Linked DNA regions of Homo sapiens. The protein of the gene in region 1 purifies or fractionates together with the protein of each later gene. This does not show direct contact. Each region holds a gene or a part of one and is shown on either strand. Other genes may lie near its edges.

Region 1 (7,857 bases):
GAAACATGTGCTGTATTGACTCAAGGTTTAATGGAGTTAGGGCTGTGCAGGATGTGCCTTGGTAAACATGTGTTTGCAGGCAGTATGCTTGGTAAAAGTCATCGCCATTCTCCCGTCTCGGGTACCCAGGGACACAATGCACTGCGGAAGGCCACAGGGACCTCTGCCCGAGAAAGCCTGGGTATTGTCCAAGGTTTCCCCCCACTGAGACAGCCTGAGATGTGGCCTCGTGGGAAGGGAAAGACCTTACCTTCCCTCAGCCCGACACCCATAAAGGGTCTGTGCTGACGAGGATTCATGAAAGAGGAAGGCCTCTTTGCAGTTGAGATAAGAGGAAGGCATCTGTCTCCTGCTTGTCCCTGGGAATGGAATGTCTTGGTGTAAAACCCGAGCGTACATTCTATTTACTGAGATAGGAGAAAGCCGCCTTATGGCTGGAGGTAAGACATGCTGGCGGCAATACTGCTCTTTACTGCACTGAGATGTTTGGGTAAAGTCAAACATAAATCTGGCCTACGTGCACATCGAGGCACAGCACCTTTCCTTAAACTTATTTATGACACAGAGTCCTTTGCTCACATGTTTTCCTGCTGACCCTCTCCCCACTCATTACCCTATAGTCCTGCCACATCCCCCTCATGGAGATGGTAGAGATAGTGATCAATAAATACTGAGAGAACTCAGAGACTGGTGCTGGTGTGGGTCCTCCATATGCTGAGTGCCAGTCCCCTGGGCCCACTTTTCTTCCTCTATACTTTGTCTCTGTGTCTTATTTCTTTTCTCAGTCTCTCATCTCCACCTTGCAAGAAATACCCACAGGTGTAGAGGGGCAGGCACCCTTCACTAAGTCCTCTGGTCCTCACTGTGTCCCTGCCAGGCTAAGGCTTCCTTAGCCGTGGTAAAGCAAATAAAGGCCTGACTTAAATCAGGCCTCCTGAATCTGACACTTGCCAGCTATGTGACTATGACGATGTCACATGATCTCTCTAAGGCTCGATTTCCGAATCAACACAATAACTATTCCCATCTCAGCAGGCAGCTCTAAGAACTAAACAGAAAATGTTCACTTAGGCAATCAGTGGAGTGCCTAGCACATGTAAGTGCCTGATGTGTTTGGGAACTTTATTAATCCCCTGACAGGCCCAGAGGTAAATGTCGTTATCACTTCCATTTCACAGTCAGCAAAGGCTCAGGGAGCTTTAGAAATCAGGCACAGCCTCACATTTAAAAAGCAAAAGCAGCATTTGAGCACCGCTAAAACACCTCACCAAGCTGCCAGAGAGCAGGCAGGTGGGAGTGAGGGGTGCTTTTAGCTACAGCCAGCACTGCCAGGATGGGTGTGGAACTGCAGCCCCGCAGAGACCTGAGAACAATGTCTCAGACAAAGGGAAGTGCAAGGGCAAAGGCTGAAAATGGGAAAGAGCTTGGCAAGCTCAGGATTCCCTGGATGAATGCAGTGAGAAAGGGGACAATGGAAGAGGAGAAAGAAGATGCGGTCAAAAGGGCAAACCAAGTACAGCCTTGCAGACCATGCTGGTAGGAGGGGGTGGATTTATTGGAAATGTGATGAGAGTCCCTATAAGAGAGGCCTATTCAATCATCAACCATTTATTAAGTACAATAAATGTACTTAAGCCTGGCTGTTCTGGGTCTTGGGAGAGGGAAGCAACAGGCACTCACATTCCAGGGTTGGAAAAAGATCCTAAACAGGCAACTAAATAAATGAGTAAGGCAATGTCAGATGGCCTTAAAGATTCAGATGACAAGAAAACAGAGCAAGGAGACCAAAGAGACTCTGGTCAGCTTTAAACGGTGCAACAGACGAGACCTCTTTAAGCAGCGGACACCAGAGGGAGTCAGAAATAAAGCAAAGGAGGGAGAGGTGGATGAGAAATTAACAACTACGACAGGAGCTGACAGTAATCTGGGCTATCATGAAAGTAATCAGAGTGACTGCTAGAGAGTAACCCTGGGCCTCATGTGTTATCTCCAAAGGGACACTACATCCTGCATACCATCGCCACTGAACATTTTAATGGACTCGTTTTTCACCTGTAACTAAATGTCTTAAACAGGAAAATATACTGTTAGTTGCAACCCAGCGTCCCTTGCCCTAAACTGAAAGACAAATTCCTCAGCCTGCCCTACCACCTTTTCTGCCCTGGCATAGCAGCAACCGCAGAAACGCTCCTCCCACCTCTTTCAGCCGCTGCCCTTCGTGTTGTAGAGACAGGAGGCCAAGGAGGCCAGAGGGTCAGACTCCTGCTGGGGTTGAGTCTCCAAACCTAGCACAGGCCCAGGGAGCAGCTCCGGAAACAACATCCTGAGCGACGTCCCCGGACCGTGCTGTGCACTGAGACGGACACACACACATCACCCAGGGAGCCGTTCAAGCTTCCTCAACCCCGGGGGGGGGAAGAGTAAATATTTCTACTTTGCGCGCGCAAAAATGAAGGACGAGGACAGTAACGGGACTTGTTCAAGGTCGCAGGCCCGAGAAAGGACATGGTTGGAAGAGCCACGAGGAGGACTGCGGTCGCTCCTCTCACCTGTGAGGGGTTCCGGGACCCTAAAAGCCCTATTTCATACCACAACGCCGCGCACCCCAGAAACGGGGACGCTCCCCACGCCACCGCGGGCCTGCATTCCGGACCCGGGACCGCGCGACCCCCTTCTAGGCCTCTAAGAAGCAACGGCAGGGACTGCACTGAGGACGACCCTGAAACGCCGTCCTTCCGCTCGTCGGGCCCGGGACACTGAGGCCGGGTGGCCGCGGGGAGCCGAGCCAGTCTGCTCACCTGCGCTGCGTCCTTCGTCTCCGCCATCCGACCGTTGGCAGGACGAGGCCGCGTGGGGCAGCTCCCACGGGCTCAAAACCCTACCCCGGGTCCTACAACGGTGCGGAGGTGAGCCCCAGTCGCCCTACCATCCTTCCCAGCACAGTTCTGAGAGCGCGGACCAACACGCCCCACCACAAACGTCCACGCCAGCGAGGCCGGAAGTCCCGCCCCTGTGTCGCGGTCGCCTGCCACGCCTTTTCCTGCGCCGGCCCACTGCCTTCTAGGTAATGTAGTCTTGTCCCGTAAGAGGCCAGGCTTGGCTCTTTTTCCTTTTTTATTATGCACACCATGTTTCTGTATATCTCAGATGATCTTAGCGGAGCAAGTGTACACACTGGATTGTAAATTTTTAAAACTTCCTATTATTCGGATGCCTCAACGTCCCTACAAGCAGGCTGTGAGCACTCGCCCAGGCACCCAGGTAAACGAGTTTGATAAAGGGGGCCCTGCCACGAGGTTCCCCGCTTGCCTCCTCTGAGTGACCCAGTGACATTCCCATGTACCAGTAAAATCTTACGCCTGGTTACTGCGTCCTCCTCCACCCTGACGCCAGGCACTGTCCCTGGGACTGGCGTGGATCTGGACCCCCGCTTCCCGCGTGGAGCCATTCCCGGGACATGCTCGTGGGGTTCCGTCTGTGGGACGTCTGCCTCCTCTGTGTGGACTGGTGTTGCCCAGGGCTCAGGAAGGTCTCCAGGGGCCGTGAGTCCCCGCCCGCTTCCGGAGTCCAGCTTCGTGACACCATCGTGAGAAAGAATGCAGGGATGAGTCAAAATGAAGCCAAAGGCAAGAAGCTTTTATTGGGAAGAAAAAGTACACATTTTTGAGAAGAGTGTACTTTTCCCAAGAGAAGAGGGAAATGCGGACGTACGAGGGAGAGCGGGTCATGCACAATGGAGTTTGGGTTTCTAATTTTATGGGCTCTTCTAATTAGGGGGTGGGATAATCATGAGGTTTTTCTAGGAAAAGGTGGGAATTTCTTAGAATTGGGGTGCCAACCATTTTTATACTAAATGTGGGCGTGCTTGGATTGGCCTGGCACTGGTGGGTGTGTGATTTAATGTGGCAATGAGTGTATAATTAGGTCTGGGGTAGGAAATGGGTCAAATCTAGCGTCATGGGACAGCCTAGCCCCAATCCTGTTTGTTAAGGTCTCATCAGCCCAGTCTTCTTGTTGGAGTAGCTAATTTTAACAGCTTGATGTTTTCCCCCTTCTCCTGTGACCACACAGCATTCCTATTTTGTGGGTGTTTCTTTAATTAGAGAGTGGAATAATTATTAGGTATTCTGGAAAAGGAGGGAAATTCAGGGACCCACCTGGTTACTGCCCCCTTTCTCTCTTATTTGGCTTTGCCCAGAAGAGTCATGGACATGTCATCCTGACTGGGATTTTGGCCATTCTTTCTCTTATTTTGGGTTTTCTGTTATCCTATGGTTTCTTTGCCTAGTTCTTGTTTTTATTTGTTGTTCGAATTTTTCCATCCTCCTGCAACCACCCAGTGCTATTCCTATATCACTGTGAGTATAAACACCCTTTAACCTTATAGGCTTCTTGAAGTATAATTCCCAAGACCATGTTGCAGTGGTCCTTAAAGAACCAATAAGGCAGAGAGAAACAAACATGTTCCAAATTTTGTTCTCAGGAGTAAACCTTACTCAATTGTTAAAGGCTGTAGCTAGCTCAAAAGAAGTTTCCTTGACTCTGAAAAACAAAACAAGGATCAGCAATGTTCCAAGCAAAAGTCAAAAAGATTATTTCAGTTTTTCTATTAGTTCAGCCTATTCTGTTAACTCTTGTTCTGCTTGATATTTATAAACATTTTAGCTTTTCATGAGTCCTGTATGTTTTTCAGTTATCAGAAACCTGCATTTAGGAATACCTGTTAAAGTATTCCTACATCTGATTATGAACCATATTTTGAAGAGGATTAAAACAAGACAACAATTGTCTGTAAATGACAAAATGTCCAGGGTGGTTAGTCAAAAACATGATTGACAAAAAAAATTTGGTTATCTCCGTGGTTTACAATAACAACATAACAACCTTAATTGTGGTTGATAGTGTATACTTTCACATTAGAGTTTTCTAAATCCCATGCAGTTTTGGAACACATATTAATAGTATTTGCTGAAATATAACCTGAAGAAGATTAGACATCATTTTGGCAATCCCATGTAACAAAACATGTCAAATAATCCTGCTTGCCTCTTTTCTGGATGCCCCAGGGACCCTCTGTAGCATCCAAAACGTAGGTGTCAAGAAAGACAATTGATTTGTGGAAGCCTGTTAAATATGTTAACAGGCTTAAAATATTTGATGTTATGTACTAGAATTCCAGATTACTATAAGTTATTTATTTTGCCAAAATGATGACTCAAAAATTTGAAAAAGCAAAAACCTTTCATTAGCCTTTACTATTACATGAAAATTGTGTTCAAGAGAGAGAAAGCCAAATTTCACCCTTACATTAGTGTACTATTAATGTCAACCACAATTTTTAATGAAACAATTATAGGCAATTCTATCCAATCTTAACCAGTTTGACAATGAGGTGAGATTTTCACAAACCTTTTATAACCCTTTACAAATTTTGCTAAAGAGTAGATTCATGCATTAAGAGTTCTTTGTTGTGCTTTTATTTCAATGCTCAATTTACAGAAAACCACATAATACCCTTTTGAATGTAGTCAATATATTCACACAGAGTTTCCTTTGCAAGATTAATTCTTACAATTTTTTCCCCAGTTTGCTTAAACCTTCAGTTGTATTTTATCTACTTTAAGACAATTCTTTATCCCTAGGCAAAACGTACATTGCCATGCCTTCTTATAATTTTTTACAAAAAACACATTTTACTGTTTTTACACACATTGCATGTAAATCTATTCAGTAGTCTCAATTACATGTCATAATGGTAACTCTTAGCAATTTTTTTTTTAAGATGGAATCTTGCTCTGTCACCCAAGCTGGAGTGCAGTAGCACAGTCTTGGTTCACCGCAACCACCACCTCCCAGGTTCAAGCGATTCTCCTGCCTCAGCCTCCCAAGTAGCTGGGACTACAGGCACATGCCACCATGCCAGGCTGATTTTTTGTATTTTTAGTAGAGATGGGGTTTCACCGCATTAGCCAGGATGGTCTCAATCTCCTGACCTCGTGATCTGTCCGCCTCAGCTTCCCAAAGTGCTAGGATTACATGTGTGAGCTACCACGCCTGGCCCTACCTCTTAGCAATTTTTAACTTTAGTGTAAAACCTGGTAAGTTGTTTTAATTATTTGCTGGGTGCAGATAAAGTTTAACTCCTTCCAGAATAAGTTAGGGGCTTGGTTACTTCCATATGTTCCCAGACTTTACCCATTGTGAAGCAGGCAAGTTGAACAGTTCTTAAAGGCCAAAGGAGCAGTACAACCTTAAAACATTTAGCAAACCTACCATCTGACCTGCATAATTTAGACCACATATTTACATCTTGAGTACATTTGTATTTTACCAATAATCCCTAAGACTGTTTTATTTTTAAAGATTAAAGTCACATGAACTAAGAGAAATTACAGTTTTTACTATTCTTTCAAAAAAGATTTGATCGGCCAGGCGCAGTGGCTCACACCTGTAATCCCAACACTTTGGGAGGCTGAGGTGGGTGGATCATAAGGTCAGGATATTGAGACCATCTTGGCCAACATGGTGAAACCCCATCTCTACTAAAATACAAAAAATTAGCCAGGCATGGTGGCACGTGCCTGTAATCCCAGCTACTTGGGAGGCTGAGGCAGAGCAATTGCTTAAACCTGGGAGGCGGAGGTTGCAGTGAGCCAAGATCGCACTACTGCACTCCAGCCTGGTGACAGAGCAAGACTCAGTCTGGGAAAAAAAGAATTTTATTTGATCTAAGTGCTTATAGGCCAATCAATTACAGCTCTTTTTTATAGACATCACACAACACATATATGACTACACAGACAGAAGAAGATCCAGCAGCTCAGGGTGGAGCCCTTTAAGAATAAGGCTACAAAAGCATGCAGTTTCTGGGGCCTAATAAACAGGCATAGCTCGAAGGCCAAAACAGATTTTGAGAGGGATTTATCCATCTCTAATTCTTGGGGTTCCATGAGGAAAACAGATTTCCCCCAAATTGAATCTGTGGCACCTTGTCTGTTTTCTCAAGGAGTCCAAGGCCACCAGAAGTCATCCTTGAGCCTTTCATGCATGCACCAAGATTGGCAAGACAGAGTGGAGAAAAGTAATTCAGTTGACTGAGATACAAACCTTTTCCAGAAAAACAAGATCTAAGAAGAGAAAAACATAAAGGCGTTTCAAGGACACCTATAACTTGGGTATCCACTTTTAATTAAGCTGAGTGCTCTTTCATAAAATTCTTCTTTACTAATTAAAACTTTACAGATAATATAAACAATGATCCTTATCTTTTTTTTTTTTTTACTGGTTTGCATCACTCTTTGTTCACAATCATGTTCAGGTTCTCCAGTTTACTTTTGGGGAAAGTGGCTGGATTCAGGCAAGGACAGGTTTTTAACTGGACTGTAGATCCCTCTAACAGCAAGCCCTGATATTTGAAGAGGCAATTGTCTGTTAGCCAGAGACTTCCCTTAGAGGATAGCAGTCCTGCTATATTATGTGGGGTCTAAACAGTTATTTTCCGGCTGGGTGCGGTGGCTCATGCCTGTAATCCCAGCACTTTGGGAGGCTGAGGTGGGTGGATCAAAAGGTCAAGAGATCAAGACTATCCTGGTCAACATAGTGAAACCCCATCTCTACTAAAAATACAAAAGTTAGCAGGGCATGGTGGTGCACACCTGTAGTGCCGGCTACTCAGGAGGCTGAGGCAGAAGAATTGCTTGAACCCAGGAGGCAGAGGTTGCAATGAGCCGAGATCACGCCATTGCACTCCAGCCTGGTGACAGAACGAGACTCTGTCTCAAACAAACAAAAAACAAACAAACAGTTATTTCCCATTATTAACTTGGTGGCCTCTGGCACGAGCAAAGCCACCAATGC
Region 2 (7,022 bases), on another chromosome or scaffold:
CAAACTACCATGGCACGTGTATACCTATGTAACAAACCTGCATGTTGTGCACATGTATCCCAGAACTTAAAGTATAATAAAACATTTACAAGAGCCAATTATTAAGTTGTAGAAGTTTAATATTTTTCCCATTGAAAATAGTCTTACGTTATTTTTCTGCTAAATTCTTTAAGAGAGATTGGATTTATTTGAACTTCCTAGAAATTCTGTTGATAATTGCTAGTGATAGCAGTAGTTTACATTTTTACATATAAGATGAAGAAGCAAGGCATTTATTTCAGTAATTTATGTTGATTCTTGCTTTTGGAAAATAGCATAATCAACTTGCTTTTAGTATAGAATTTTCTAATTAACAGTCATGTTAAGTTGGTACCTACTGAGTTTTTTAAAAATGTGAACTATACATCAGAATATTGTTTATAGTAGTAAACAATTAGATACAACCTATTAAGAAAATATAAATGATAGCTGAAAGTTTGTGGTTTTTAACAGTTTTATTGAGATATAATTAATATACCATATAATTCACCCATTTAGGTGACCAATTCAATGGTTTTTCATATGTTCACAGACTTATGCAATCATCACCACAATCAATTTTAGAACAGTTTCATCACCACAAAAAGAAACTTGTACCCATTAGGTGTCTCTCCCTATTCCGCCCCAACTCTCCTAGGCCTCCTCCAGCTTTAGACCAACCACTAATCTACTTCCAGTTTCTATAGATTTGTCTATTTTGGACATTTTATATAAATGAAATCATGTGATATGTGGTTTTTGTGATTGGCTTTTTTCAGTTAGCATAAAATATCCATGTTGTAGCACTATTTTTATGACTAATACATATTCTATGGATATACCAAGGTTTGTTTGTATATTTGTCAATTGATGAACACTTAGGTTGTTTCCACTTTCTGACTATGAATAATACTGGTATGAATATTTGTGTACAGATTTTTATGTGGATATATTTTTTTCATTTCTCTTATATATACACCTAGGAGTGGAATTGCTGGGGCATATGGTAACTCTATGTTTAACCTTTTGAAGAACTGCCACATTGTTTTCCAAAGCAGCTTTACCATTTTACATTTCCACCAGCAATGCATGAGGGTTTAAATTTCTCCACACCCTCTCCAACACTTGTTATTGTCTGTCTTTTTGATTGTAGTCATCCTAGTTGGTGTGAAGTGGTATTTCATTGTGGTTTTGATTTGCATTTCCCTGATAGCTAATGATGTTGAACATCTTTTCATGTGCTTATAGGCCATTTGTATATTTACTTTGGAGAAATGCCTTCAGATTGTGCTTTTCTAAAAGCATTCATTGCCAAATTTTACTTTGAATAATGTGCTTGAAATCAAAACATGAATCATATTATAGCTAGGACATTAAGTGTCACTTACCTTACCTTCCTTAGGGAATATTGGAAATTTGAAGGACATAAGGATTACTTTTGTTAATGGAAATTGACTTTGTCTTTTTTTTTTTTTTTTTTTTCAGTGCTACACTGGAATTTGGAAATCTAGATGAAAGTTCTCTGGTTCAAACAAATGGAAGTGACCTCAGTGCTGAAGACAGAGAGCTCCTGAAAGCTTATCATCATAGTTTCGATGATGAAAAAGTAGACTTGGATTTGATCATGCATCTTCTATACAATATCTGCCATAGTTGTGATGCTGGTAAATACGTGTTGTCTAAAAGAACTGGAGCAAAATATATACTTTAAGAATTAATATTTTAAGTGTACAAATTTTTATATAATTGCACTGATAGTAGTAAGTGAATAATCTCCTGTCATCTTATGATAGTTTACCAGTACTTGAAAACATGTGATACAGATTTTTATAATTCTGTTGATTGCCTCTGATTCACAATGAGATTTAATATTAAAAAGTCATTCTTCTCCAAGGTGCAGTACTAATTTTTCTGCCTGGATATGACGAAATTGTTGGACTGAGAGATCGCATCCTGTTTGATGACAAGCGGTTTGCTGACAGTACACATAGGTAAGGGCTAAAGCCTTATATCTGTTGCTTAAAATAACGGACAGGTCTTATAGTATGTTTTCTCTTTCAATTGTCTGCAGATACCAAGTCTTTATGCTTCATTCAAATATGCAAACATCCGATCAAAAGAAAGTATTAAAAAACCCACCTGCAGGTGTTCGAAAAATAGTAAGCTTCATAAAATCTTCTTTTTAACACTTTCATTAGTTATTTTTTCTGTTTTTTTATTAACTTTAAAGTAATATCTTGTTGCAGATTCTTTCCACCAATATTGCTGAAACCAGCATCACAGTCAATGATGTTGTCTTTGTTATTGATTCTGGTAAGGTGAAAGAGGTATGTATGGGTAAGTTGTAGTTTTACTTAAATGAAGAAGATTAAGTTCTACTTCAACAAATACTTTTATTTATTATTTAGTTGTTTTTCTTTTAATTTTACCTCTACTCAAGACAGCTTGGACCAGCGCATGCTTTTATAAGCAGAATTTACGAAAAATGTCTGGTTCTAGATAAATTTAACATACTAAATATTGATTTTACTAAATATTCTGCCTTAAATAATTCAGTATATAGAATCAATTTTTGTTATTTTAACAAAGTATACAAAAATGTAGCTCTGCTCACCAAATACTAGGAAGAAAGTAAAGGGTTTGGTTAGTTATAGTGAAAATGTTGTCACACAGTATGGGAATTTGATTACATATTTTTTATGTTTTCCTTCTACATATGCACATGGATTATGTCTTTGTTCACTGTTAAATCTTTAGTGCCTCACCTATAGCAGGTGTTCAAAAGATACTCAGTTCAAGAGAACCATGCTGAAAGAAAGCAAAGAAATAGATAAACCATGGGATAACCAGCAGCTAAATTGGACTTAACACTTGCTTTTGTAAAAAAAAAGTTTCATTGGAACTCAGCTAGTCTACTTTTACCTTTTCTCTATGGTTGCTGCCTTCATACTGCAAGGCAGATTGGAGTATTTGTAACAGAGACCCTCTCAAAGCCTAAAATATTTACTATTTGAAAGTCCTTTTCAAAAACAGCCAACCTTTGTTATAAAAAAAAAAAAGCCATTTATTTCCTTTTAGTACTGGAATGCCCAGCAGTTGTCCATGTTCCTAACTTTTGGTAGATAACATTCGCTGAAAAAATGAAAGTGGTAAAGATAATTGATTTTTCAAGGGAAGACATATTACTCATGTGTGGAAAGCAAATTATATCTATTTAGTGGATAAAAATGATCGTTTTTAATGTGAAAAAAGTAATTGCCTTATGTTTTCAATGTAATTTTAAGGAATATTTTATAGAAAATAAAATTTTATTATAAAAATTGGCCATATGCTTTATAATTGAATAAAGGTGGGATAAATTTTATTTTTATATAATAGTACATTAATGAGTATTATCACTAAAAATCTTAATGGTGAGCCAATGAAAATTCAGATTTTATTGCCCTAAAATTACCTAAAGTGGATAAAGTGGGTTTTGAATATTTTAGAAAGTTCCTTTAGGTGTTACTTATTTATTAAGTAACTGAAATTTAAAACATGGGTAGTGTCAAAAGTTATTTAACATACAAAATTGACAAATGTAATGTCATATTAAAAACCAAATAAGCTGTTTTCTAAAAATTTTATAAACTATTATGCAAACATTTTTATTTGCTCTATGCAGTTATTTTATGAAAGGGAAAGTATAAGTACCGAGTGACTGAAATACATGTTCTAGTTAGGCTTGTATTTCTTTAAAATATTTCTCTACAATAAATTTTCACTGTAGGTTATTTGAATAAGTATGTGGATAACAATGGTTCTTTTTTACTTTCTTCATTGTAACGTTCGGGAAAGGCTAACTTTGTTAGTAGCTCAGCAGGAAGTAAAGTGGAAGTGGTTAAAAATATTTCTCTTTGGGATAAGATTATTGATTGTTATTCTTACTCCACAAGGTTAGGTCCCTGAAAAGTATTTCAGAAAATGTCTTTCCTTGATCTTCTTATTCTGCACAGTGATGCAAATCTGATAGGAAAGTGACCTCAAGGGAATAGATCCGTTCTCTCCAATCTTGATGTCTTATGAGAACTGGCTGCCATTATCCAGCTGTGGCAGAGAGCAACAAATAGCTCAGCAGAGCACAGAATGGAGAAGTTTTACGCTCTTCTGAGTTTAGTTTTTAAATCCTTTTTTCTTAGTATGTTTGTAACCAGAAAATCAGGGTTTATTAAAAATCAGTACTGCTGTTTTAATTATTTAATCAAGAGAGGACTTTGAATTAAACTTTTGGCATGTTAAAATATGTTGATAACATTCTTGCTATTACCTTTTAAATACCTTTTATATTCTAACATAAAGATGGTTTAAATATTACAGAAATCCTTTGATGCTCTGAATTTTGTTACAATGTTAAAAATGGTATGGATTTCCAAAGCTAGTGCCATACAGCGGAAAGGCAGGTAATGTATATTTAATGTATATTCATTCAATTGCCTGTAAAATGGAAACGTTTTTATATGCATTACACATTTATCATATATTCCATGTTCAATAAAATAGTAGTTTTCATGTTAAAATTTTTATATTATTTTTGCAAAGCAAGCCATTTTGATACTTCCTTAAAAGTTGAATGTAGGTTATGTTAAAATTAAAAACTTTTGCCTAGTTAAATGTACATTCAGATGTAAGAAGCTTAAAAAACAAAACCAAAAATTCTAAACATATGCAATGTAGGACAAAGAGCTAATTTCCTTATTATATAAAGAAGCTCTTTGAAATCAACTAAAGGCCAATAATCCAGTTAAAATGGATAAAGGGCACAAATAGGCAATTTACCAAAATAAAAAATATGCATGTCCTACTAATACATTAACCTCACATATACTACCTAATATGTATCTAAATAAATGCAAATTAATGAGGTATTATTTTTTGAATCTCAGATGGGCATTGATGAAAATGTTTAACAGTATGTACAACATAGAGGAAAAACATGGGCCAATAGTCTTTCATATTTTACTGATGGGAGTATAGATTGGTGTGACTTCTTCAGAGTGCAATTTGAAACTATTTATCCAAATCTACTCTTTGACCATAGATTCCACTTGTCATAATTTATCCTGAGTATGCTTGCACACGTGTGCAAAGATGTATGTTTAAGACTGTTCTTTGAAGCATTGTTTATAATAATGTAAAGTCTGGGAACAGTGTGATGTCCATCAATACTGAAGTGATTAAATAAATTATAGCCACACAGTGGCTTTCTGGGTAGCTGTTAAAAGGAAAAATGTAGATCTGTGTGTTCTTATATGGAATGAGTTTTCAGGATGCATTGTTAATTGAAAGGATACAGAACATGCATCTAGTAGTCTTTTGTGGTAAGAAAAATATATGTGTGTTTGTGTATGTATTTTGACACAAATGCATCGAGAAGTCTGGGAGAAACATTAAAAAACAATGAATGATTGTTAACTCTGAGAAGGAGGATTTGTGGGGTTCTTGGAGTAAGGAGACAATTTTATTTTTTTTGTAATTTGGTTATTTTACTAAGTGTTTGGGTTACTTTTTAATTTTCAAAAGATAACATTAAAAAGTATCATTTTCAGTAAATATTTATCTTGCATTTTATTATAATTAGCAGGAAAACATGAAATGCTGACTTTCAAAGAATGCCTCATATACTGAAGACTCATGTGCATTATTTCTTTACTTTGTAACTTCATAGAATGCCCATGAGGGCTTTGTTGTTGTTATGTCAGTTGTTTTCTTATGACCAATAGTGGCTTGATACATTAAGCTGGATGTCCCTGCTATTAATAGTATATTATTGTGGGTAAGGCTGGGTGTAGTGGCTTATGCTTGTAATCCCAGCACTTTGGGAGCCTGAGGTGGAAGGATCACTTGAGTCTAAGAGTCTGAGACTAGCCTGGGCATCATAGTGAGACCTTGTCTCTACAAAAAATTAAAAAATCAGCTAGGTGTGGTGGCACAGGCCTGTGGGCCTAGCTACTTGGGAGGCTAAGGTGGGAGGATCATCTGATCCTGGGAGGTCGAGGCTGCAGCTGCCGTGAGCTGTGATCATACCACTCTACTCCAGCCGGAGCGACAGAGCCAGACACTGTCTCAAAAAAAATAAAATAACAAATAGTATATTATTGGAGATGAAGGCCAGAACTGCAAAAATTTTCATTGCCATTTTTCAACAAATGTTTATCAAAAGTCTTCCCTGTGCACATGTTACGGATAGTGATAAATAAACCATAGCCTGATAGGTAAAGCTGGAGGTAGGGCAAATGTTGCAGTCCATGTGGGAGTCCAGTAAATTAAGCAATTTTAATACAGTGTTATTTGTGCTACAACTGGATGTTTCCAGAGTTGTTAAGAATGAATCTGAGACAATTGTGAATAAAGGGGGAGGCATTTCTAAAAGGCAGAGGGAAAGTATAACCAGGTATACTTATTTGCCTAAAGGCAAGAGTGAATAGGGAGGATGTTTGGATAGAATTTAGTTTAGAGAATAGTGAAAAATGAGCTGAAAGTTGGGGACAAGTTTTTAAGGACCATTTTGAGTTTTCTCTCTTTTTTAAAAAAATAAACAGTGGGATGACATGAGTATAGTATTCTTTCAGCTCTCTGAAGAATGGATTGGCAGGAACAAAAATGATGGTAGGAGGACCCAGTAGGAGGCTTCTTCATTAATACTTTCCTATAATAAGGGAGAGATGAAAGTAGTCTGGATTGTTTTAGTGGTGGTGGAAATAAAAATAAATAGATAATTAATTCAAGAGATACTAAAGAAAGTAATGTTGGTGATTGATTGTGTATGTAGGGGGTGAGGGGTAAGGAAGAGAGTGGAGTTAAGGATGTCATCCAGGTTTCTGTCTTAAAAAATCGGACAGTAGTGCCATAGTCAGATAGGGAAAATTGGAAGAGTGTTTTCACTGGAGAGAATAATTAATTTTTGGTTATTTTGAGTTTGAGTTGCCTGTAGAAAATCGAAGTGGATTGGGAGGCTGAGGCGGGCA
Region 3 (7,882 bases), on another chromosome or scaffold:
TGTCCTTTGCATTTATTTTCACTTTTTTTCCCCCATTTTCAGAACTTACAGACTTTCTAAATAGATGGAGTTTCAGGGGAATCACCTGGTTAGAAAGAGAGACTTGGAGCTGAGTTTCAGAGTACTTTACCCAAGACAGACCAGTCTTAATTGGCCAGCCCAGAGAACCAGGGTGGGGAGCTAGAGGTTTGTGGGGGAAAGGGGGCCCCCTCCCAGTCACCCTTGGCTACACTTTCATGGTATCCTTCTGCACTGTTCCATTCTGGTTCCACGTGAACCTGCTGCTCTGGAAAAATGAGTCTGTTGAGATGGAAATTTCACTGTATTTGACCACTGAGAGTCTGTGGCCTAGAAGGTGCTGGCCTGGAGTGCTGCCATCAGAGCGGCAGCCTCTTTCTAGAGCATTCTGTCTGAGCCGAGCATGGAGCTGAGAGCTGAAATCATGAGTCATTCTACCCTCACTCCTCCAGAGCCTGCAAGGGAGTACTGGGGGGTCATCCATGTCTGGCAGGCGAGGACAATGGGGCTCAGTGAGGTTACATAACTGCCTGAGGGTCACTCTGCTAGAGAGGTGGAACTCAGTCCAATGTCACATCTGTCAAACCCCAGAGCCCCTGGTCCTGACAACTGTCTGATCTTCCACTACTCAGAGTCCTTAGAATGCTTCTGGATGTCCTTGTGTTGGAGGAGGCCATTTAATCCTATGGAATGACGCTGTGAGGCAGAGCGAGTCATGTTAACCCTGGAAGCGGTGACTTGTCTGAGGTTCTGTGGCTACTATTGTGCAGAAGGTCAGCATTTCCCCAGAGGCCACTGCCTTCTAGCAGGTCCTGGGCGATCCTAGTGGGTGCTGGCTATGGTGGGGGTGGGTGGTTACGTTGAGGGAGGCCAGGTTGCCCCTTCTTCTTTTTGAGTCGGAGTCTCGCTGGAGTGCAGTGGCACAATTTCAGCTCACTGCAACCTCCGCCTCCCAGGTTCAAGCGATTCTCCTGCTTCAGCCTCCCGAGTAGCTGGGACTACAGGAGTGCACCACAACACCCGGCTAATTTTTTTTTTGAGACAGAGTCTCGCTCTGACGCCCAGGCTGGAGTTCAGTGGCGTGATCTGGGCTCACTGCAAGCTCCGCCTCCTGGGTTCAAGTGATTCTTCTGCCTCAGCCTCCTGAGTAGCTGGGACTACAGGTGCCTGCCACCATGCCTGGATAATTTGTTTTTGTATTTTTAGTAGAGACGGGGTTTCACCACGTTGGCCAGGCTGGTCTCAAACTCCTGACCTCATGACCCGCCCGCCTCGGCTTCCCAAAGTGCTGGGATTACAGGCATGAGCCACAGTGCCCAGCCTTTTCTTTTTTTTTTTTTTTTTTTTTGAGACAGAGTCTCGCTCTGCCACCCAGGCTAGAGTGCAGTGGCACAGTCTTGGCTCACTGCAACCTCCATCTCCAGGGTTCAAGTGATTCTCCTGTCTCAGCTTCCGGAGTAGCTGGGATTACAGGTGTGCACCACCACACCTGGCTAATTTTTTGTATTTTTAGTAGAGACGGGGTTTCACCATGTTGGCCAGGTTGGTCTTTTTTTTTTTTTTTTTTTTTTTTTTTTTTTGAGACGGAGTCTCGCTCTGTCGCCCAGGCCGGACTGCGGACTGCAGTGGCGCAATCTCGGCTCACTGCAAGCTCTGCCTCCCGGGTTCACGCCATTCTCCTGCCTCAGCCTCCCGAGTAGCTGGGACTACAGGCGCCCGCCACCGTGCCCGGCTAATTTTTTGTATTTTTAGTAGAGACGGGGTTTCACCTTGTTAGCCAGGATGGTCTCGATCTCCTGACCTCATGATCCACCCGCCTCGGCCTCCCAAAGTGCTGGGATTACAGGCGTGAGCCACCGCGCCCGGCCCAGGTTGGTCTTGAATTCCTGACCTCAGGTGATCTGCCCGCCTCAACCTCCCAAAGTGCTGGGATTATAGGCGTGAGCCACCGTGCCCGGCCTGTATTTTTTTTTTTTAGTAGAGATGGAGTTTCACCATGTTGGCCAGGCTGGTCTTGAACTCCCGACCTCAGGTGATCCGCCCACCTTGGCCTCCCAGTGTGCTAGGATTACAGGCGTGAGCCACCACGCCTGGCCTTAGGTTGCCCAATTCTTAGCAATCTGAGATGGAAGGGAGGGGGCAGCCCAGAGCCCAGAAATGAGGGTTCCCTCCCCTCGTCTCCCCCTACTTTCATCATCTCTAGAGTGGTTCTCATAATTGTGTCCATTTTACAGGGCAAATGGTAGAAGTAACCTGCTCAGTCAGGAGAGATCAGGTTACAGTCAAAGCCAGACCAGCCACGCCCTGATGCTACTGTCCAGGCCACCACAGCTGGCAGGTACCTGCTGCAGGCTTAGCCCCAGGCTAGGCGGTATATCAGGTGCAAAAAATGATGGTGAAGAGTGATTCTGACAGGCTTGGCTCTGGCCTCTAGGGCTATGACAGAAGTTGAGAGGATGACGAATATGGTTTAGTAGTAACCCTACAGATAGACCAAGGGCAGACATGTTTGTAGGAGAGTGTGTGTGAGCAGGGGAGTCCTGACCCACAGTGGAAGGCCAGGATGGAGGGGGTAATAAGGGTAGTGGTGACGGGGGTTGTGTCTGGGCTGAGCTGGTTTTATGGGAGAGATGGCATTTCAGGAGCTTGTAGAGCTAAGTATTGGATACACAGAAGACTTTGAGGCAGAAGTAGGATCCCTTCTGCTCCTACAGAAGAAGGGGAAGAAGCAAGTAACTGTACCATTTAATAATGGAAATATAGTAGTAATAAAAATATTAGTAATTAGGATATCAAATGCCCTAGCCTCCAAAAATATACAAAGGCCATTCGACGTAGGAAATTGACTTATTGGTATTAAACAGGAGAAGGGGCTGGGTGCGCTGGCTTACACCTGTAATCCCAGCACTTTGGGAGGCTGAGGTGGGTGGATAACCTGAGGTCAGGAGTTTGAGACTAGCCTGGCCAACATGGTGAAACCCCGTCTCTACTAAAAAACCAAAAAATTAGCTGGGTGTGGTGGCGTGCACCTGTAATCCCAGCTACTCGGGAGGCTGAGGCAGGAGAATCGCTTGAACTCGGGGGGCAGAGATTGCAGTGAGTCAAGATCGCGCCACTGAACTCCAGCCTGGGCGACAGAGCAAGACTCTGTCTCAAGAAAAAAACCAAAAAACCAAAACCAACCAACCAAACAAAAAACAAAGAAACAACAACCACAAAGCAAAAAACAAAAAACAAAAAACAGGAGAAGGACCCAAGATGGTATCTCAGTAGTCAGGGTCCTACTTCAGTATTTCTGCAGCATTGATTAGATCAGACTGTCAAGGAATCTTTTAAAAACTCAATGTATTAGTCCACATTCATTCATTTCCAGACTGAAAGTTGTGATCTTAGTGTGATTTTTCCTTTTCTTTTCTTTTTTTCCTGAAATAGGCTGGGCTCTTGTCACTACCCCATAACCTCTCAAATCCCTTGAGGACTCAGGTAGCAGAAAGTAAATAAATGAATGAACGAGTGAAATAACATACACGGATAAACTACTTAGCTAGCACACACTACGTTCTCTGTGATTCTCAGTGAGGCAGTTGGTGGCTGTGGTTAAGAAAGTAAGCTCTGCCTGTGTTGGAATCCAACACTGCCACTTACTTGGATGTGTCATCTTGGGCAGGTCACTCTGTCCCTCAGTTTCCACCTTTGCAATTTGGGACTAGTAACGCCATCCAACTCATAGGGTTGTTATGAGTTGTAATGAGGATTCAGTGGATTTAACCCATTTAAATGCAAGGTGCCTGGTATAATAAAATTATTTTCTTTTCTTAATTTATTCTTGTAGTTGGGGATGAAAAACTCGCACTCCTGTAGGCAGTCAGAAAAAATGAGTGAAGTGGGGGAACTAAGGGGCCTGGTCTGAAGGGGGAGACTGATATTTAGGGGAGTGCGGACCCAGTGGTGTGAGATTTTCAGAATCTCCTCTTGACGGGTCTCATCCGAGGTTCCAGCACAGCTCTGTAAAGGTAAAGACCGTTTACATTTTCCTCCTCAAAGCTTTATTATTATTATTTTTCTTCTCAAAACACTGCTTTGCTTTGGGGGAGCGCGGGTCCTTGGCCAGATCTTGAGTCTTGAGATATGTCTTCAGCATCTCCTGCTCCTCCTTGGGAAACGCTCCACCCGCCAGTGGGCCTGCGCCCTCCTCCCCTTCTTCGGGGTTCGGGTCCACCTCGTTTCCCCCACCCTCCCCAGGGCTGACTGCAAATCGGAGGGCGACTGCAGAGGCGGAATTCGGGGCAGAGCGGGGTCTCCCCAGCGGGCCACGTCCCACCAGCAGGTGGCGGTCGATCTGCAAGGCCTGCAAGGTGCCCGGACAGAAACTTGAGCAGATATTGGTGCCGCTGCCCGAGAAGAGCTCAGCCGAGTCTCCCCGAGCCCAGCTATCGGCATCCGCGAAAAAGCGGGGAGAGAAGGGCACGGGCTCTCCGCTGGAGCGACTCTGGGATTCAGACACCGCAAGCTGCTTTCGGAAGGGCTTCAGGAGGGGGTGAGTACTGAGCAGCGCACAGAAAAGGGAGCGCTGTCCTTTGCTGAAGGCATTGTCCTTGGCTTGCATTGAGTGGCTTTCCCACCCCCCGGGAAAGACATTTCGGGAAGGTGACGGTCTCAACAGAAGGAGGGAGCGCGGGAAAGAAGCCCGGGGAGCCGGCGCCTTCACGCCCCGCGGTCTGCAGCGGGAGGAGCGCGGGTTCCATCGCGCCAGATGGCGCTGTCTGGCTTTTCTCGGGCCTCGGGCGCCAGTCTCCAGAGGTCTCCGGCGCAGCTGCCTCTCTAGCCGGCCGACGCGGGCTCTGTGTTTCCGGGCGGAAGTGAGGCGCCCAGCGGAACGGCCTCTGGTGACATTTTCTTGGGGGCGGCGCGGACGACTGAAGGGACTTGGTGGTAGAGGCTGCGGAGGCGGCGAGGTTCACTTTGGTCCCGGCAGGGGCTCTGACCGCGACCCACTGCTCGCTGCCGGGGCTTGTTCCGAGGAGGAGAAGGCGGCGGTGGCCGTCGCGTCCTGAGTCACCGCAGCGGGGAAGAGTCCCGGCCGGGGGTTCGGTGCGTGCCCCGACGGGGCGCGCGCGAAGCGAGCGAGAAGGCACGGAGTCGCCGCGGAGCGCAGGTGAGGCGGGAAGGGGCGCAGGGCCGCGGCCTGGCTACTGGTCGAGTTGGGGGGCCCGGGTTGCGTCCCAGGGAGGGGTCGGGGCGAATCGGAGGGCTGCGGGCCGCGGTGAGGGCTCTGCGGCGTCCGGACGCTGGGGTCCTAGCGGGCCTGGCTGGTGGGCGCCGGGAACTCGCAGCCTGGATTGCCGGCTGACGCTGGGGCATCGCACCTCTCCGACCTCCTTGCTCGTCCGCCGTTGGTGACCCTAGCGTCCTCCCGGCCCGGCGGAGTTGGCTCCGGCACTCCAAGCCCCCAGACGCTGGGGCCGGGTTGAGGCGAGTCCTTTTCCGGGGGTGCTGAGGGGAGGCTGGAGGTGCCGCAGTCCCCGGGCTGCGGGGGGAAGCGACTTCACGGCCCTGGAGTTGTCTTCACGCAACTTTCCGGCTCCTAGGCCCGCGGGGGAAGCAGTGGCGGCAACTCCGCCAGCTCCGAGAGTAGGGGGTCTGGCGCCGACACCTGCCCCTGCAGCGGAGAGCTCCGGCGCCGCGGCCGCAGTGGCCTTGGTGGAGGGAGAAAAGGCTTTCTTATAGGCTTGGCGCCGCCTGCCTCTCGGCGCTTCCACTACCTTCGGTCGGCAGGCGCCTCCAGTCAATGCGAGAGATGTGTCAGTCTCCAAAATAGACCGCTTCTGGGGAGTTTGTCAACTTTATTTCAAAACCGGCGAGGATGTACACTGACGAACCCGTGTTAAAGACTATCGCCTTTACGCAAGCCATTCATTCTCACTTTAAAATTGTCCACCCCCCCGCCCCGACCCCCGTCCCCGGCAGCCCCCATCACAAAATTGATGCTCACAGGTTGAAGTAGAGAACATCGGTACGAGCCCTACCAGATCCTTGAGCAGTTTCTGTTTGGATGGGTTTTTCGTTTTTTGCCTGACCTTTTGCTTTCTGAATCCTCTTACCCAGTAGAATTAAAATCCTACTGATGATACTTCGTCAAGGTTGGACCTCTTAATTACAAAAACATCTGCCAATTTTGCTTAGGCTTTTATTGTGTAGTATTGGGTACATGCTAACAGAATCACTCCCTTTCTTCTCTTGGGATATTTTAAGGATGGAAGCTATTAACTTTCTAATGTAGTTTTGCTGATCTTGGCAATCTAGATTCCTCCAGTAATCAGAGCATTGCCTTTTGGTTTAACAAGCATTTTTAGAGGCCTACAATTGATAGTTACTGCCTGATGTCCTGAGGAGTCTCAGGACAAAAAAAAAAAAAACACATGGTTCAAGCAGTTATCCTGCCTCAGCCTCCCGAGTAGCTGGGATTACGGGCACGCGCCACCACGCCCAGCTAATTTTTGTATTTTTAGTAGAGACGGGGTTTTACCACGTTGGCCAAGCTGGTCTTGACCTCCTGACCTCGTGATCTGCCCGCCTTGGCTTCCCAAAGTGCTGGGATTACAGGCGTGAGCCGTGGCGCCTGGACTGAATCAGATTTCTTAATGGGAAAAAAAATTTTTTCTGACAACTTTTTGTGGAAAATAGGATGGACTGGATATTGGAGCTGGAAACTTTCTCCATTGTTAGAATAAGTTCACCGTGTAGTTGTTACTTATTCACTTTATATTTAACATGCATTTATGTGAGAGTAACTGTCATAATACTCTTTGTTTTATGGTTATGATTAATTCAAAACCCATATAGTAAAGATAAATTCAGCTTTAGGTTCTAATTTAATGCAGTTCCATTAGAACTGAGGGCTAATGCGTGTCCTTCAAAGGTTTCTTGCTTCTAATATTAATAGTGATATTGGTACTTTCAGTCTCTTTATTGTGTGACTAGTAAATTCTGTGCGCTTCTGTAGTTACTCATTATACAAGAAGTTGTTTTGTTGGGATTCCCAATCTTACAGCTTTTTTTGACACGTGCATGAACAGACTTGATAAATAGGCAATTTCAGTATTCTTCTTTCTAAAGTTTGGAATTCATGTACACTAGAGACCCAAACCTTTGGTAAATCATCTTAGATCTTCCTCATTTTCCTGCACATAACTGAGGATATGGAAATAGCATGTATTCATGTTTACTGAATAGACAGTACTTGAGAAAAACCTGTAAAGGTGAAAAATGTGTGTGTGTGTGCTTTTTTTTTTTTTTTTAAAGACACTCTTGCTCTGTCACCCAGGCTGGAGTGCAGTGGCATGATCACAGCTCACTGCAGCCTCAACCTCCCGAGCTCAAGCATTCCTCCCACCTCAGCCTCCGAAGTAGCTGAGACCACAGGCTCACGCCACCACACTCAGCTAATTTTTAATTTTTTTTTTTTTTGAGATGGAGTTTTGCTCTTGTTGCCCAGGCTGGAGTGCAATCTCCACTCACCGCAACCTCCACCTCCTGGGTTCAAGCGATTCTCTTGCCTCAGCCTACCAATTAGCTGGGATTACAGGCATGTGCCACCACGCCTGGCTAATTTTGTATTTTTAGTAGAGACGGGTTTTCTCTGTGTTGGTCAGGCTGGTCTCGAACTCCTGACCTCAGGCAATCTGCCTGCCTCGGCTCCCAGAGTGCTGGGATTACAGGTGTGAGCCACCACGGCTGGCTAATTTTTAAATTTTTTGTAGAGATGGAGTCTCCCTATGTTGCCCAGACTTGTCTTGAACTCTTGGGCTCAGGCAGTCCTCCTGCCTTGGCCTCCCAAAGTGTTGGGATTAGAGTTGTGAGCAAC

The links. Proteins that work in one complex are often made in the same cells at the same time.
Region 2: the proteins of ZNF550 (region 1) and YTHDC2 purify together in Homo sapiens (co-immunoprecipitation; 3 studies listed by BioGRID and IntAct, with this or other methods). This does not show direct contact.
Region 3: the proteins of ZNF550 (region 1) and ARK2N purify together in Homo sapiens (affinity purification with mass spectrometry; 2 studies listed by BioGRID and IntAct, with this or other methods). This does not show direct contact.

The regions. Positions count from the first base shown.
Region 1 is NC_000019.10:57,556,858-57,564,714, forward strand, and holds the start of ZNF550 (zinc finger protein 550), read right to left. Parts: upstream 3,007-7,857; 5' UTR 2,826-3,006; coding exon 2,799-2,825; intron 1-2,798. UniProt on the Homo sapiens protein: May be involved in transcriptional regulation.
Region 2 is NC_000005.10:113,551,678-113,558,699, forward strand, and holds part of YTHDC2 (3'-5' RNA helicase YTHDC2), read left to right. Parts: intron 1-1,503; coding exon 1,504-1,682; intron 1,683-1,912; coding exon 1,913-2,009; intron 2,010-2,089; coding exon 2,090-2,177; intron 2,178-2,264; coding exon 2,265-2,345; exon of another isoform or gene 2,346-2,355; intron 2,356-4,374; coding exon 4,375-4,457; intron 4,458-7,022. UniProt on the Homo sapiens protein: 3'-5' RNA helicase that plays a key role in the male and female germline by promoting transition from mitotic to meiotic divisions in stem cells.
Region 3 is NC_000018.10:46,169,158-46,177,039, forward strand, and holds the start of ARK2N (protein ARK2N), read left to right. Parts: upstream 1-4,876; 5' UTR 4,877-5,173; intron 5,174-7,882. UniProt on the Homo sapiens protein: AMPK substrate important for exercise capacity and skeletal muscle function.